Linked DNA regions of Homo sapiens: region 2 is linked to region 1. Evidence: fine-mapped expression QTL. Tissue or cell type: whole blood. Region 1 holds a variant in brackets; the other region holds the start of a gene. All regions are shown on one strand. Distances are between the middles of the regions.

Region 1 (8,109 bases):
TTTATTTTTTATTTTTTGAGACAGGGTCTCGCTCTGTCGCTCAGGCTGAAGTGCAAGTAGTGTGATCACAGCTCATTGCAGCATTGACCTCCTGGACTCAAGCAGTCCTCCCACCCTCAGCCTCCTGTTTAGCTGGAACTACAGGTGTGTGCCACCATCCCTGGCTGATTTTTAAATTTTTTTGTAGAGACGGGTTTTGCTATGTTGCCTAGGCTGGTCTCGAATTCCTTGGCTCAAACAATCCTCCTACCTCAGCCTCCCAATATGCTGGGATTACAGGTATGAGCTACCACGCCTGGTCATAACTACCATTTTACATGGTTATACCATTTTGGCAAAGACAAAAACATGTTAATTAGAAAAATGAAAATTGCTTAAGAATTTTCTTCTTGGCTGGGCTCAGTGGCCCATTCCTGTAATTCTAGCATTTTGGGAGGCCGAAGCAGGAGGATCACTTCAGCCTAGGAGTTCAAGACCACCCTGGGCAACATGGCGAGGACCCATCCCTACAAAAAATAAATAGCTGGGTATGGTGGCACATGCCTGTAGTCCCAGATATTCAGGAGGCTGAAATGGGAGAATCTCTTGAGCTCAGGAGTTTGAGGCCGCAGTGAGCTATTACTACACCACTGCATTCCAGTCTGGGTGACAGAGTGAGACCCCATTTCTTTTTTTTTTTTTTTTTTTTCCCCTGAGGCTGAGTCTTGCTCTGTCGCCCAGGCTGGGGTGCAGTGATGCAATCTTGGCTCATTGCAACCTCCACCTCCCAGGTTCAAGTGATTCTCCTGCCTCAGCATCCCAAGAAGCTGGGATTACAGGCACGCACCACCACACCCAGCTAATTTTTGTATTTTTAGTAGAGACGGGGTTTCACCATGTTGGACAGGCTGGTCTTGAAATCCTGACCTCAAGTGATCTGCCCACCTCGGCCTCCCAAAGTGCTGGGATTACAGGCGTGAACCACCACGCTGGGCCCGAGACCCCATTTCTTAAAAAAAAAAAAAAATTTTTTTCTTCTTATAAACACTTAATGATGGCAGACACCCAGAATTACTCTTTTTGCTTCCCTTTTTAACTCTTAACTGTAGAAACCAGGCATGGTGATTTGTGCTTGTAATCCCAGCACTTTGGGAGACTGAGGCAGGAGGATCACTTGACCCCAGGAGTTTGAGACCAGCCTGGGCAACATAATGAGACCGCATCTCTACAAAAAAAATTTTTAAAAAAATGAGTTGTGTGTGTTGGTGCATTCCTGTAGTCATAGCTACTCTGGAGGCTGAAGTGGGAGGATCCCTTGAGCCCAGGAGTTCAAAGTTGCAGTGAGCTGTGTTTGCACCACTGCACTCCAGCCTGGGTGACAGAGCAGGATGCTGTTAAAAAAAGAAAAAGGGAAAAAGCATCAGTCTATGGAAAACTTAATAAAATACTTTGTAAAAACATAAATACTGTAACTATTTTCTAATTGCTCGTTTTGCTTCATAAAACTGACATTTCCATTGAAAAGATAAAACTAGCCTGGGCACGGTGGTTCACACCTGTAATCCCAGCACTTTGGGAGGCCGAGGCGGGCGGATCATGAAGTCAAGAGTTTGAGAACATCCTGGCCAACACGGTGAAACCCCGTCTCTACTAAAAATACAAAAAATTAGCGGAGCGTGGTAGCTACTTGGGGGGCTGAGGCGGGAGAATCACTTGAACCTGGGAAGCGGAGGTTGCAGTGAGCCAATATCGCACCACTGCACTCCAGCCTGGGCGACAGAGCGAGACTCCGTCTCAAAAAACAAAAACAAACAAAAACACTAAAGGATTTTTCTGTGCCCTATGGTCTCTTCTCAATCTTTTGCTCAGCTATTTCTGATATGTAACCATTATCTTAATCTAATAGTGATTTTAATTGGATTTTGGGTCAAGGGAAACACTTAAGCTAGATGTGTGCTCACAGAATGTTATTAATGGAGACATAAGATGATTACAGTGAATTAAAGGAAATAGCTTCTATATTCGGTGCAACCTCTTTATCTTGGCATTCAAGGCCCTTCTAGTCATTAATTCAGCCTCCTTTTTAGCTTCACTTCTCTCTACCTCCATAGAGATTATATCATTCTGACAAACTGGATACCCTACCACTAAGGTATCAATTCTCAGATTTTCTGGCCCCAACTTGCCTTGCCAGCCGCAAACTCATAGTTCCTCACTTTATACACAACACTTCCACAAAGATGCCCTGCTGGCACCTGAAGTTTGACATACCCAAGACAGAATTAAATGTCTTTTAAAGGCATTTACACACCCTTGCCAACTGTAGAATAATCTAATCAATATTTTCTAATTCCCCAAATCCAGAAACAGTAGTTCCCTCTTATTTGAGGTTTCAATTACCCACTGATGTGTTTTGGCATTGTCCCCACTCAAATTTCATCTTGAATTGTAGTTCCCATAATAATCCCCATAAACCCTCATGCTGCTATTGTGATAGTGAAGTTTTCATAAGATCTGATGGTTTTATAAGGGGCTTTTCCCCCTTTGCTCAGCACTTCTCTCTCCTGCTGCCATGTGAAGAAGGATGTGTTTGCTTCCCCTTCTGCCATGATTGTAAGTTTCCTGAGGCCTCCCCAGCCATGCAGAACTGTGACTCAATTAAACCTCCGTCTTTTATAAATTACCTAGTCTCAGGTATTTCTTCATAGCAGCATGAGAATGGACTAATATACCCACATTACCTAACAATAATACAGACAGAGACCACATTCACACAACATTTATTATAGTATATTGTTATAATTATTCTGTTTTATTATCGTTGTTAACCTCTTGAGTATGCCTAATATATGTGTTAAACTTGGCCAGATCCTGTGGCTCATGCCCATAATCTCGGCACTTTGGGAGGCCAAGGTGTGAGATTGCTTGAGCCCAGAAGTTTGAGACCAGCCTGGACAACATAGTGAGACCCTGTTTCTACAAAAACTTAAAAAAAAAAGTAGCGGGGTGTATCAGGGTGTGTCTGTAATCCCAGCTACTAAGGAGGCTGAGGTGGGAGGAATACTTGAGCCCAGGAGTTCAAGACTGCAGTGAGCTATGATCAGGCCACTACTCCAGCCTGGGCTAGAGTGAGACCCCATCTCTTAAAAGAAAACAAAACTACTACTAAGTCATTTTAGTTTTTCTTTTGTTGGTACTAAGTTTTTGGAATCCAGAATGTATTTTACACTTCATAGCAAGCACTTCTCAATCCAAACAAGTGAGATTTTAGACTCAATAGCCACATGTGGCTAGTGGCTCCCATGTTAGACAGCACAGGTCAGTAGCATAAAGAACTTTAGAGTTCTTGAACTGGCATTCTTGATTTTCTACAACTTTCGCTACTGCCCTTCATTTTTCAGCTTCTCCCTGCTCACCCAAGCCCCAGCATCTAGTTGTCTGCCTTTCTTTTCCTCTTGTTATCCTTCCCTGCCGTGGAAATCTGGCTGACCCCTGCCAGGGCCTATCCGAATGCCACTTTCAGAGCAGGCTGGCACTGTTCTTGAGGCGCTGCATTCTCGTGGTGTCCGTAAGCACTAACCACTGGCTGTTGACCCTCCTGCAGCAGTGTTTATGGGAGCCGTTTGTCTGGTTTCTCTGTGAGAAGTCTAGCACCCCACTAGCAGGGGAGCTTCTCAGAGACCGGCTTTCTCAGCCGTCTTATTTCCTAGCGCAGCATGCACAATGTGGTGGTCCACGTGTGGCCTCCATTTGCTCTTAGGGTATTCTTATTCTTATCCTTTGCTGTTTGATAGTTGTGTTCCTGACATCTTTGGGATCTTAAGCAATTTCTCCTTTAACAGTTTTCTTTACCTTTGACATGTATTCTGAATGAAATTTCCCTTTATATCTGGATCAGTTCCACTGTTTAAAGGGTATTCTTGCTCTTTGCAGTCTGAAGCTTTTGCTTATGCAATAGAGGACATATTAATTTCTGTGTAGAAACAACCACCTAATATGAATAAAATTAGGTTTCATATGTACGTGTAGTAGGTTATTCTAGTTTTAGTCTGATTCTCATCCCAAATACAACTCTTCCCCTTATATAATTTAGTTATATATATGCACTGTATTAAGGCTTTTTTCCCTGCAGCTTTATTGAAGAGTTTATATGCTTTTTGAATTTCTCTCTCCCCT[A/G]AAGAGATTTGGTCAGTGGTGTTTTGCTTGGCATCCTTTGCCCGTGTAAAAAAGCAAACAGGTGCCCAAAAGGTTGTGCTGTATTCTGGGAGAAATCTGATTAATGTTGAAGGGCTGTGTCAGGTCAGACTCAACCTGCTGACAGATTATTTAGTGAGTGCGAGGATCGAGGATCAACTCTAAACGTTATCTTAGATTTTAATGGTTTTCTTGTGAAGAGCATTTGCAGATGAAACCAATTTGTATTTAAAGTTAATTGTAGTTGTACCAGAGACTACTTAAGAAGAAATTCTTCCCTGAAGCAGGCAGTGGTTTGAAAAGAATGAATGATTCATCAGATAGTGTTGCAAGGCTTATAATTATATTCTGTGTTTTAACATAAATTGTTGTGTTTTAAATTATGGTGAAATCTTACTCCTAGTAAAATAAGAGTTTCTCCAAAGAAGTTCCTATTGAAATGATCTTAAATTCTTTTAATATAAGTTTCCCAAACCTCTTCACAACTCCTTGAAAAACAATGAAATGTGCTGTTCCTTGTAAGATAGATCCCTAGTTAGCCCGGTTGCTTCTCTTTCCCTCACCCCTCAATCCACGTGTTCTGTTTCATGGATACCAAATGTCTGCACGCCTCTAACCACACTGCCAGCAGATTGCGAGTGGACTATGAAATGGATCTCTTACTTAAACTCCTTCCGCTCTTGCTCTCCACACAGCAGGCAAAAGGGTCTTTTTTCTTTTTAAACTTGTTATCATTGTTATTATTTAAATGTTGTGTTATGGAAAATTTCAAATATATATCAAAGTAGAGAGATGGGTGTTCTTCTTATTCAGCTTCAACAACGATCCATTCATGGCCAGTCTTCTTTCATCTGTGCTTCTGTCACTCCCCCTTCAACCCCTTAAATATTTTGAAACGAATCCCAGAGTTTTTATTACTTTAATTAGCTAATTTGGAATTGCCCTGTCATGAAATTTGGTTTATTGGTTGGTCACATAGGTGGGGAAAGTTGCTGTCCCAGTGGTGATACACTATTTGTTGCCTTCTTTATGTCTTCCAATTCTGTTTCCTCTTACTTTTTCACGATGTGTTCCCTTTCTTTTTGTTAACTGCCATCCCCAGAGAAATAGTTTCACATGTCCAATTCATGTTAAGCCAATTTTTCAGGGATGTATATATAGGCACTCTGCTACTTTTGTACCAAATACATTCTTAAAGTTGAATGTACAAAAAATAAATGTGTGTATGGGAAGGATGTTTCATGCTCAGAAAGTTTTAAAAATTAAAAAATCCCTGTTTTAAAAAATCATATGATACATGCTCATGATAAAAATAAAATTAATACAGAATGGTATGAAGTAAAAGGCAAAAATTCCCATTTTGTTCATGGATCGTTTTCAGTTCCTTATTTCTAAAGCAACCATTGCTAATATTTCTTATGGATCCTTCCAGAAAGGCCATTTAAAGCCTTAATAATGTATATTTTTGACATTTTCTCTCAGTGTCTTTGAATTTAGTAGATAGAAATTGGTTTTAGTGTTGGAAAGAATAGCTTGGTGTTTTGCAAGAGTTTGAGTAGAAGATTGTATGATGGCTTTGATATTTTATTGACTTTCATAAACACTAATTTCCTCTTGATAAAGGAGCTCTAAGCAGACTCTGAACTCATCAGCAACTCTTTGGGCCTACGAAAATCTCTATACTAGTACTATCCAGTAGAAATATAATGTGAGCCACATATGTAATTTTAAATTTCCTAATATTCATATTAACTAAAAATAAAAAGAGGCCAGGCATGGTGGCTCACGCCTGTAATCCAAGCATTTTGGGAGGCTGAGGCAGGAGGATCACTTGAGCCCAGGAGTTCAAAATAAGCCTGGGCAATACAGTGAGATCCTGACTCTGTATTGCCAGACAAACAAAAACTAGCTGGGTGTGGTGGCATGACCCCGTAGTCCTTGCTACTCAGGAGGCTGAGGTAGGAGGATCACTTAAGCCTGGGAGTTCAAGACTGCAATGAGCTGTGATTGTAACACTACACTCCAACCTGGACAACAGAACAAGCCACTGTCTCTAAAAATAATAATAGTTAATTTTTTAAAAGGTGAAATTTGGCCGGATGCAGTGGCCGATGCTTATAATCCCAGCACCTTGGGAGGCCGAGATGGGCAGATCACTTGAAGTCAGGAGTTTGAGACCAGCCTGGCCAACATGGCAAAACCCTGTCTCTACTAAAAATGCAAGTCAGGTGTGGTGTCGAGCACCTGTAGTCCCAGCTAGGGAGGCTGAAGCAGGAGAATCACTTGAACCTGGGAGGCAGAGGTTGCCATGAGCTGAGATCACGCCACTGTACTCCAGCAGCCTGGGCGACAGAGCGAGACTCTGTCTCAAAAAAAATAGGTAAATAAAGAAAGGTGAGCTCAGTCTTGATAATGCATTCTCTTTGGTGCATTATATCTAAAATATTCTTTTTCTGTTTCATTTTTTGAGACCAGGTCTTGCTGATCCACCCACGCTGGAGTGCAGTGGCGTAATCATGGCTCACGGTAGCCCCAACCACTGGGGCTCAAGCAGTCCTCCCGCCTCAGCCTCCTGAGTAGCTGGGACTACAGGTGCACACCACTATGCCTGGCTAATTTTTTTATTTTTAGTAGAGTCAGGGACTCACTGTGTTGTCCAAGCAGGTCTTGAACTCCTGAGCCCAAGTGATTCTCCCACCTTGGCCTCCCAACGTGCTGGGATTATTGGCATGAGCCACCATGCCTGGCCCAAAATACAATTTCAGTATGTAAGTAATGAATATAAAAATTAGAGATTTTGGGGGCCGGGCGCAGTGGCTCATGCCTGTAATCCCAGAACTTTGGGAGGCCGAGGCTGGCAGATCATGAGGTCAGGAGATGAGACCATCCTGGCTAACACGGTGAACCCCTTCTCTACTAAAAATACAAAAAAGCCAGGCGTGATGGCACGCACCTGTAGTCTCAGCTACTCGGGAGGCTGAGGCAGGAGAATCCCTTGAACCCAGGAGGCGGAGAGGTTGCGGTGAGCCGAGATCACGCCACTGCTCCAGCCTGGTGACAGAGCGATGGAGTTTCACTCTTGTTGCCCAGGGTGGGATGCAATGGCGCGATCTCGGCTCACCGCAACCTCCACTTCCCAGGTTCAAGCAATTCTCCAGCCTCAGCCTCCTGAGTAGCTGGGATTTCAGTTGCCTGCCACCACACCCATCTAATTTTTTGTATTTTTAGTAGAAACGGGGTTTCACCATGTTGGTCAGGCTGGTCTCGATCTCCTGACCTCAGGTGATCTACCTGCCTCAGCCTCCCAAAGAGATTTTACTTTTTTTCATACTAAGTTTTCAAAATCCACTGTGTGTGGTTTTGTTTGTTTGTTTGTTTTTTTGAGACGGAGTCTCGCCCCATTGCCCAGGCTGGAGTGAAGTGGCACGATCTTGGCTCACTGCAAGCTCTGCCTCGCGGGTTCACACCAATCTCCTCCCTCAGCCTCCCAAGTAGCTGGGACTACAGGCGCCTGCCACCACGCCTGGCTAATTTTTTGTATTTTTAGTAGAGACGGGGTTTCACTGAGTTAGCCAGGACAGTCTCGATCTCCTGACCTCGTGATCCGCCCGCCTCGGCCTCCCAGAGTGCTGGGATTACAGGCGTGAGCCACCGCGCCCGGCCCACTGTATGTTTTATACTTAGAGCATGTCTCAAGTTGGGCTTCCCTCATTTCGGGTGCTCAGTAACCATGTAAGGAATGGCTGTTGTATTGTACAGTACCGCCCTCTACAGGGTAGAAGGAGAGGGGATGGGATATGTTCTCAGTTTTGTTCTTTATTTCCCAGCGATTGACCAATGTTTGGAGTTAAAAGGTTGCCGCTTTTGATGTTCTTTGTGATCTCCAGCTCTGACTGAATTGTATCGTCACTAGCATCAGCACTTTGCTTAAAAATC
Region 2 (8,109 bases), 150 kb after region 1:
CTGACTCCATAGATCCTAAATTTTTTCACCACTCCTCTTTCTGTTCCTTAAAAACAGCCCTAGAAGCTGCTCCCACACTAGCTCTCCCTAACTCATCCCAACCCTTTTCATTACACACAGCCAAAGTACAGGGCTGTGTGGTCAAAATTCTTGCACAAGAGCTGGGACCGCACCCTGTAGCCTTTCTGTCCAAACAACTTGACCTCACTGTTTTAGGCTAGCCCCCACATTATTCCGGATACCACACCTGACCCACATCACTGTATCTCTCTGATCCAGCTGACATTCACTCCATTTCCCCATATTTCCTTCTTTCCTGTTCCTCACCCTGATCACACTTGGTTTATTGATGGCAGTTCCACCAGGCCTAATTGCCACTCACCAGCAAAGGCAGGCTATGCTATAGTATCTTCCACATCTATCATTGAGGCTACTGCTCTGACCCCCTGCACTACCTCTCAGCAAGCCGAACCAATTGCCTTAACTCAGGCCCTCACTCTTGCAAAGGGACTACGCATCAATATTTATACTGACTCTAAATATGCCTTCCATATCCTACACCACCATGCTGTTATATGGGCTGAAAGAGGTTTCCTTACTACTCAAGGGTCCTCTATCATGAATGCCTCTTTAATAAAAACTCTTTTCAAGGCCGCTTTACTTCCAAAGGAAGCTGGAGTCATTCACTGCAAGGGCCATCAAAAGGCATCAGATCCCATCGCTCAGGGCAACGCTTACGCTGACAAGGTAGCTAAAGAAGCAGCTTAGCCTTCCAACTTCTGTCCCTCACGGCCAATTTTTCTCCTTCTCATCTGGTCACTCTCACCTACTCCCCCACTGAAACTTCTACCTATCAATCTCTTCCCACACAAGACAAATGGTTCTTGGACCAAAGAAAATATCTTCTTCCAGCCTCACAGGCCCATTCTATTCTGTCGTCATTTCATAACCTCTTCCATGTAGGTTACAAGCTGCTAGCCCTCCTCTTAGAACCTCTCATTTCCTTTCCGTTGAGGAAATCTATCCTCAAGGAAATCACTTCTCAGTGTTCCATCTGCTATTCTACTACTCCTCAGGGATTGTTCAGGCCCCCTCCCTTCCCTACACATCAAGCTCGGGGATTTGCCCCTGCCCAGGACTGGCAAATTGACCTTACTCACATGCCCCAAGTCAGGAAACAAAAAAACCTCTTGGTCTGGGTAGACACTTTCACTGGATGGGTAGAGGCCTTTCCCACAGGGTCTGAGAAGGCCACCGCAATCATTTCTTCCCTTCTGTCAGACATAATTCCTCGGTTTGGCCTTCCCATCTCTATACAGTCCGATAACGGACCGGCCTTTACTAGTCAAATCACCGAAGCAGTTTCTCAGGCTCTTGGTATTCAGTGAAAACTTCATACCCATTATTGTCCTCAATCTTCAGGAAAGGTAGAATGGACTAATGGTCTTTTAAAAACACACCTCACCAAGCTCAGCCTCCAACTTAAAAAGGACTCTGTCAAGGATAGAGCCCCAAAACTCACCAACCAAGCAGGTAATTATGCTGAACCCCCTTGAGCACTCTCTAATTGGATGTCCTGGGTCCTCCCAATTCTTAGTTATTTAATACCTGTTTTTCTCCTTCTCTTAATTCAGACCTTGTGTCTTTCATTTAGTTTCTCAATTCATACAAAACTGCATCCAGGCCATCACCAATCATTCTATACGACAAATGCTCCTTTTAACAACCCCACAATATTGTCCCTTACCACAAAATCTTCTTTCAGCTTAATCTCTCCCACTCTAGGTTCCCACACACCACCCCCAATCCCACTTGAAGCAGCCCTGAAAAACATCGCCCATTATCTCTCCATACCACCCCCAAAAATTTTCGCTGCCGCAACACTTTACGACTATTTCGTTTTATTCTTCTTGTTAACGTAAGAAGACAGGAATGTCAGGCCTCTGAACCCAAGCCTGCATGTGTACATCCAGATGGCCTGAAGTAACTGAAGAATCACAAAAGAAGTGAAAAGGGCCGGTTCCTGCCTTAACTGACCCCTGACCTAGCAACTGATGTTATCTACAGATTATAGAAAGACATTGTGAAACTTCCCGGTCTGTTTCACTCTGACCACCGGTGCATGTCATGTACCCCCTGCTTACTCAATCGATCACGACTCTCTCACGCGGACCCCCTTAGAATTGTGAGCCCTTAAAAGGGACAGGAATTGCTCACTCGGGGAGCTCGGCTCTTGAGACAGGAGCCTTGCTGATGCTCCCAGCCGAATATACTCCTTCCTTCTTTAACTTGGTGTCTGAGGAGTTTTGCCTATGGCTCGTGCTGCTACCATCCTGCCTGCACCCAGGTGAAACAAACAGCCTTGTTGCTCACACAAAGCCTGTTTGGTGGTCTCTTCACACGGACGCACATGACAGTGGTGGCAGGCGCCTGTAATCCCAGCTACTCGGGAAGCTGAGGCAGGGAGAATTCCTTGAACCCGGGTGACAGAGGTTGCAGTGAGCTGAGATTTTGCACTCCAGCCTGGGCGACAAGAGCAAAACTCCGTCTCGAAAAAAAGAAAAAAGAAAAGTTCACAGTGATGATGCCCACCAAAATCAAATAGAAGGTCTCACACATCCAGGAAACTAGAGTAGGGGATGAGATGGGAAAAGGATCTACAGGAGCTTCAACTGTGACAAAATGTTAAGAGCTGAAAAAGTTGCTGATGAAGATACACTGTGATTTTTTCAGAGCATTTTTTTTGCATCTACTACTGTAAAAATCAAATGAAAACAAAATCTAGACCAAAACGACTGTCTCCTTTAAGAAAGGAGCGATAGGCTAGATCTGAGAGGATGACTGTGGAGAATATTCGGACTCTGACTCAACGACCTAAACTGCCTCATTGGCTCAGTTACCTCCCTGGTCCCTGTATACATTTGAGTTTGCGATCCAACATAATTAACCAGTCGATCTGATTCCAAGTCAACCATTTAACAACCTGAGCACAAAATTTAAGCAGGCAGTTTCTTCCCTTGTGGGAAGGGAATGACAACTTCAACTTTATGGATTGTTGTGAGCGTCCCAATAACTTGTGTAAAACTTTCCTAAAACGTTAAGTGTGCCAGACACATACTGGTTTATATGGGTATCAGCTAATTCCTGGATCCAGCCTTTATTTCCACGGATCTAGGGAATAATTTTACATGGGGAAATATACCCCTCGAACCAAGGAGTTCCCCCAGGGCCGAAGCCTGACTTGGCAGGAACACAAAACACCTGAGGAGGGGCGCGGCGGCCCTAGCCTGGTGCGCATGCGCCACTGTAAAGGCCGTTAGGTCTGTCCCTGGCGCCCGATTAGAATATTTAATTCCAGTTGGAGCGTTTTTCCTCACCTTACTGTATTTTATTTCGGTAAATACCCACACATTTTAATTTCTGAGAGGCACAAATTCCTCTCAGACTCATTCAAATTGACCGAGTAGTCTTATAAGGTGCCTTTTGTCTCATTGTAAATCCTCAGTAAAGTTTGCAGTTTAGGATGATAACGTGATTTTTGCGTAAAAATAACAACTCATTTCACCTGAAAAGGACCACGACAGGAGCAGGGACTCGAGTTTCTTTTTATTCGGGCACTTCAGTAGTTACCTCTTGCTTGGGGGTGGTGCCGCGTGTGGACCCGATGGACCCCGGCGACGCCGCCATTTTGGAGTCTTCCCTAAGGATCCTCTACCGGCTTTTCGAGTCAGTGCTGCCGCCGCTGCCCGCGGCTTTGCAGAGCAGGATGAATGTGATAGACCACGTGCGGGACATGGCGGCCGCGGGGCTGCACTCCAACGTGCGGCTCCTCAGCAGCTTGTTACTTACAATGAGTAATAACAACCCGTGAGTTGAGGCGGGTAGCTGCCTGGGGCTGAGGAGAAAGCGGCGGCGGTCTGGGAGCGGGGGCTCAGGGCACGTGGGAACAGGCGGGAAGGAGCGGCCGCCGGCGCCAGCGGAGGCTCCGGGGTCTGCGAGGGCGTCCTGGAGCGGAGCAGACTTCGGAGCGCAAGTTGGGTTCACTGGGTGCCGGCGTCAAGTCCCGCGGGGATGTGGCGAGCGGCGGCTTGGAGACATAGAAGGCAGAGGCTCTGAGGACGACCCAGGCGAGGGTTTCCTGAGGCACCTGTCGCGGGGCAGCGCGACTGTCACATCGCTAGGCTGAATCCTTCCCTCTCGGCTCCTTCCAGAAGAACGTTTTTTTCTCTCGCTGCAGCTCAGGGACCCAGCCTCCTGGTTTTTATGCGCTAGCCCCCGCATCTGAGATTGGTCCCCCCGTTAAGTGTATCAGGAGGGTCCACTTTCTGGCCTTGGGAAACCCCTGAAAACGGGGCCGGGCGCGGTGGCTCACGCCTCTAATACGAGCCCTTTGGGAGGCCGAGGCGGGAGGATCGCTTGAGCCCAGGAGTTCAAGACCAACCTGGGCAACATAGGGAGACCCTGCCTCTACGAAAAGTAAAAATTAAACAATTAGCCGGGCGTGATGGTGCGTGCCTGCGGTCCCAGCTACTCGGGAGGCTGAGGCAGGAGGATCGCTTGAACCCAGGAGGTCGAGGCTGCAGTGAGCCGTGATCGCATCATTGTCCTTTACCGTGGGCGACAGAACGACTGCCTGTCTCAAAAAAAGGAAACGGGAGACTCCATTAATGGGTGGGCGTGGCGCCTTTCATGTTTCCTTGAAGCACTGAGCTGATTCCATCCTTGAGTGCATGTCCCTCTCCTGCTTAATATCCTTTATTGGCCGGGCGTAGTGGCTCATGCCTGTAATCCCAGCACTTTGGGAGGCCGAGGCGGGCGGATCACGAGGTCAGGAGATCGAGATCATCCTGGCTAACACAGTGTAACCCCGTCTCTGCTTAAAAAATACCAAAAAAATTTAGCCAGGCGTGGTGGCGGGCGCCTGTAGTCCCAGCTACTCGGGAGGCTGAGGCAGAAGAATAACGTGAACCCGGGAGGCGGAGCTTGCAGTGAGCCGAAGTAGCACCACTGCACTCCAGCCTGGACGACAGAGCGAGACTCCGTCTCAAAAAAAAAAAAAAATCCTTTATTGCACTTATGAAAATTCTTTCCCATGGCCTCTGAAGGCAAATATCTGCCCTCCACTCTCTGCGACTTCATCTCATTACTCTGTTCACTGCTCTCTAGCCTCCCTGGCTATTCTGTTATTTGTTTTTATTTGTTTATTTATTTTTATTTTTTTGAGACAGCCTCGCTCTGTCGCCCATGCTGGAGTTGAGTGGCGCAGTCTTGGCTCACTGCAGCCTCCGCTTCCTGGGTTCAAGCGATCCTCCTGCCTCAGCCAACCAAGTAGCTGGGATTACAGGCGAGCGCCACACGCCCAGCTAATTTTTGTTATTTTAGTAGAAACAGAGTTTCACTATATTGACCAGTCTGGTCTTTTTTTTTTTTTTTTTTTTTTTTTGAGACGGAGTCTCGCTCTGCACGATCTTGGCTCACTGCAAGCTTCGCCTTCTGGGTTCACGCCATTATCCTGCCTCAGCCTCCCGAGTAGCTGGGACTACAGGCGCCCGCCACCGCACCCAGCTAATTTTTTTGTATTTTTAGTAGAGACAGGGTTTCACGATGGTCTCGATCTCCTGACCTCGTGATCCGCCCGCCTCGGCCTCCCAAAGTGCTGGGATTACAGGTGTGAGCCACCGCGCCCAGCCGACCAGTCTGGTCTTCAACTCCTGACCTCTGGTGATCCCGCCGCCTCGGCCTCCCAAAGTTTAAGGATTACAGGCGTGAACCATCGCTTCTGGCCTCTTTGTGTTATTTGAATGCACCAAGCGTGTTCTCTACTCTGGGCCCTTGTACTTGCTGTTCCTCCTGCGACGGTCCTCATCTCAGCGTTGCCTCCTCCTTCAGGTTTTAGCCTGGATATCTCTCCTAAAGAGCCTTCTCTGACTCCCAGGACTCTCGGGTACTCCCACTTTTCTACCCTTCGCATCACCCACCAATTGAAAGCGCAGTGGCTGTGCGCAATAAGCACTCACATGCTTATTGAGTGTGTTGAGGAAGTGAGTACAACCTCAGGGAGGTGAAATACCCTTGTCCAAGTTCACACATCCAATAAATGGAGGAGTACGATGCCTGGACCTGGTCTTCTCTGACTGGAGAGTCTCCATTCTGAGCCACCAGTCTGCTACCTCCAAATGGCGTTATAATGGAAACTTTTACTCTGTAGATGTATTAGTGTTTGGCCTGCTGTAGAAGCTGGTCTAGGTCAGAAGGGAAAAGTCCTTTAAGTGCTTACAATGCAGCTGCTGCTGCCCATTGGATTTTCATTAGTGCACTTTGGTGTTTTGTTTTGTTTTGCTTTTCAGACGGAGTCTTGCTTTGTTGCCCAGGCTGGAGTGCAGTGGTGCGATCTCGGCTGACTACAGCCTCCACCTCCCAGGCTCAATCGATCCTCCCACCTCAGCCTCCTGAGTAGCAGGGATTACAGATTCGCACCACCACGCCCAGCTAATTTTTTTTTTTTTTTTAATAGAGATGGGGTTTCATCATGTTGGCCAGGCTTGTCTGGAACTCCTGACCTCAAGTGATCCCCATGACTTAGGCCTCCCAAAGTGCTTGGATTGCAGGCGTGAGCCACCGAGCCCAGCCTCATTAATGTGCTTTGGACCTTACTAGTGAGACCCACATTTTGCCACCATCCACTTCATGTTGACAGGAGCCCTGGTCTCTGTCAGCCTTATGTGTTTATGCTGGAGCCTTTCACTTGGTTCTGAGTGATTTGCCAAAGCATACAGTTTCCACGTTTGGAGATTTAGGCCCTAGTTACTCTTAGTTCTTAAAGATGTTACAGGATAGTTTGAAACAGTTTAATTCTCTGGCTAGACGAAGTTTAGCCCATGCTTTTTCATATTGGGTTAGATTGGCAGTTTCCTAGCTTCAGGACATGTTTAAGTTCTGACCTTCATGATTTATACTTTAAAATTTCTTGTGGAATAGGAATAGACACTGTTAAATTCAAACAGTGGAGAAGGGGCATGCAGATCAGTATCTTTACCTGAGTCTTGAACCTCACCCCAACATTTCCTTTCTCCAGAGGCAATAACTATTTTTTCGTGTGTCATTACAGAGATAACTTAATGCATGTGTAAGTAGACATGTATCTTATATGCATATCTGAATGCTTTCTGTGGATGTAATAATACTTTTGTATCTAAGCATCAAATGGTTATTTCTCACTACATACATAGAATCACAGAGTTTGAAGAGAACTTAAGTCATCTAGACTATACTCTTTTTGTTGTTTTTTTTCTGTTTTTCTGGGGAGACTGAGTCTCACTCTGTCGCCAGGGCTGGAGTGCAGTGGCGTGATCTCGGCTCACTGCAACCTCCGCCTGCTGGGTTCAAGCAGTTCTCCCTCAGCCTTCCAAGTAGCTGGGATTACAGGCGCCCACCACCATGCCTGGCTAATTTTCGTATTTTTAGTAGAGACGAGGTTTCAACATGTTGGCCAGGCTGGTCGAACTCCTGACCTCAGGTGATCCTCCCTCCTTGGCCTCCCAAAGTGCTGTGATTACAGGCGTGAGCCACCGCGCCTGGCCCCTTTTTTTTTTTTTTTTTGTCTGAGACAGAGTCTCTCTCTCGTCACCCAGGCTGGAGTGCAGTGGTGGGATCTTGGCTCACTGCAACCTCCACCTCCCAGGTTCAAGCGATTCTCCTGCCTCAGCCTCTAAGTAGCTAGGATTATAGGCATAAGCCACCGCACATGGCCACAATAATGCAATTCTGTGGGTTTTAGTGTATTTACAAAATTGTATGATCATCACCATGATCTAACTCCAGAAGGTTTTCATTATCCCAACAAAAAGAAACCGTGTCTATTAGTAATCACTCTCCAATTGTCCCTTCCTCCCGCAAACACTAATGTATGATGCCTATTTTTTTTTTTTTTTAAGAGACAAGATCTCACTATGTTGATCAGACTCTAGGCTCAAGCAGTCTTCCCACCTCAACCTCCCAAAGTGTTGGGATTACAGGTGTGAGCCACTGTGCCTAGCTTGTTGAGAAATTAACTATCTACAGAATTATTCGACTCGGCTGGGCGCAGTGGCTCACGCCTGTAATCCCAGC

The links. PIP is the estimated chance that this variant, and not a neighbour inherited with it, causes the effect.
Region 2: ANAPC7 starts here. The variant in region 1 is fine-mapped to the expression of ANAPC7 in whole blood (TOPMed, PIP 0.91).

What each region holds. Positions count from the first base shown.
Region 1 is chr12:110,552,310-110,560,418 of GRCh38, reverse strand. All of the region lies in intron 1 of PPTC7 (protein phosphatase targeting COQ7), which reads left to right. Among named protein-coding and RNA genes, the nearest start is that of PPTC7, 27 kb to the left of the region's middle. The variant A/G (reference allele first, on the strand shown) is at 4,156.
Region 2 is chr12:110,399,285-110,407,393 of GRCh38, reverse strand. It overlaps ANAPC7 (anaphase promoting complex subunit 7), which reads left to right and starts at 3,686. Exons shown (of 11, transcript NM_016238.3): 1 at 3,686-3,867. The coding sequence starts at 3,767.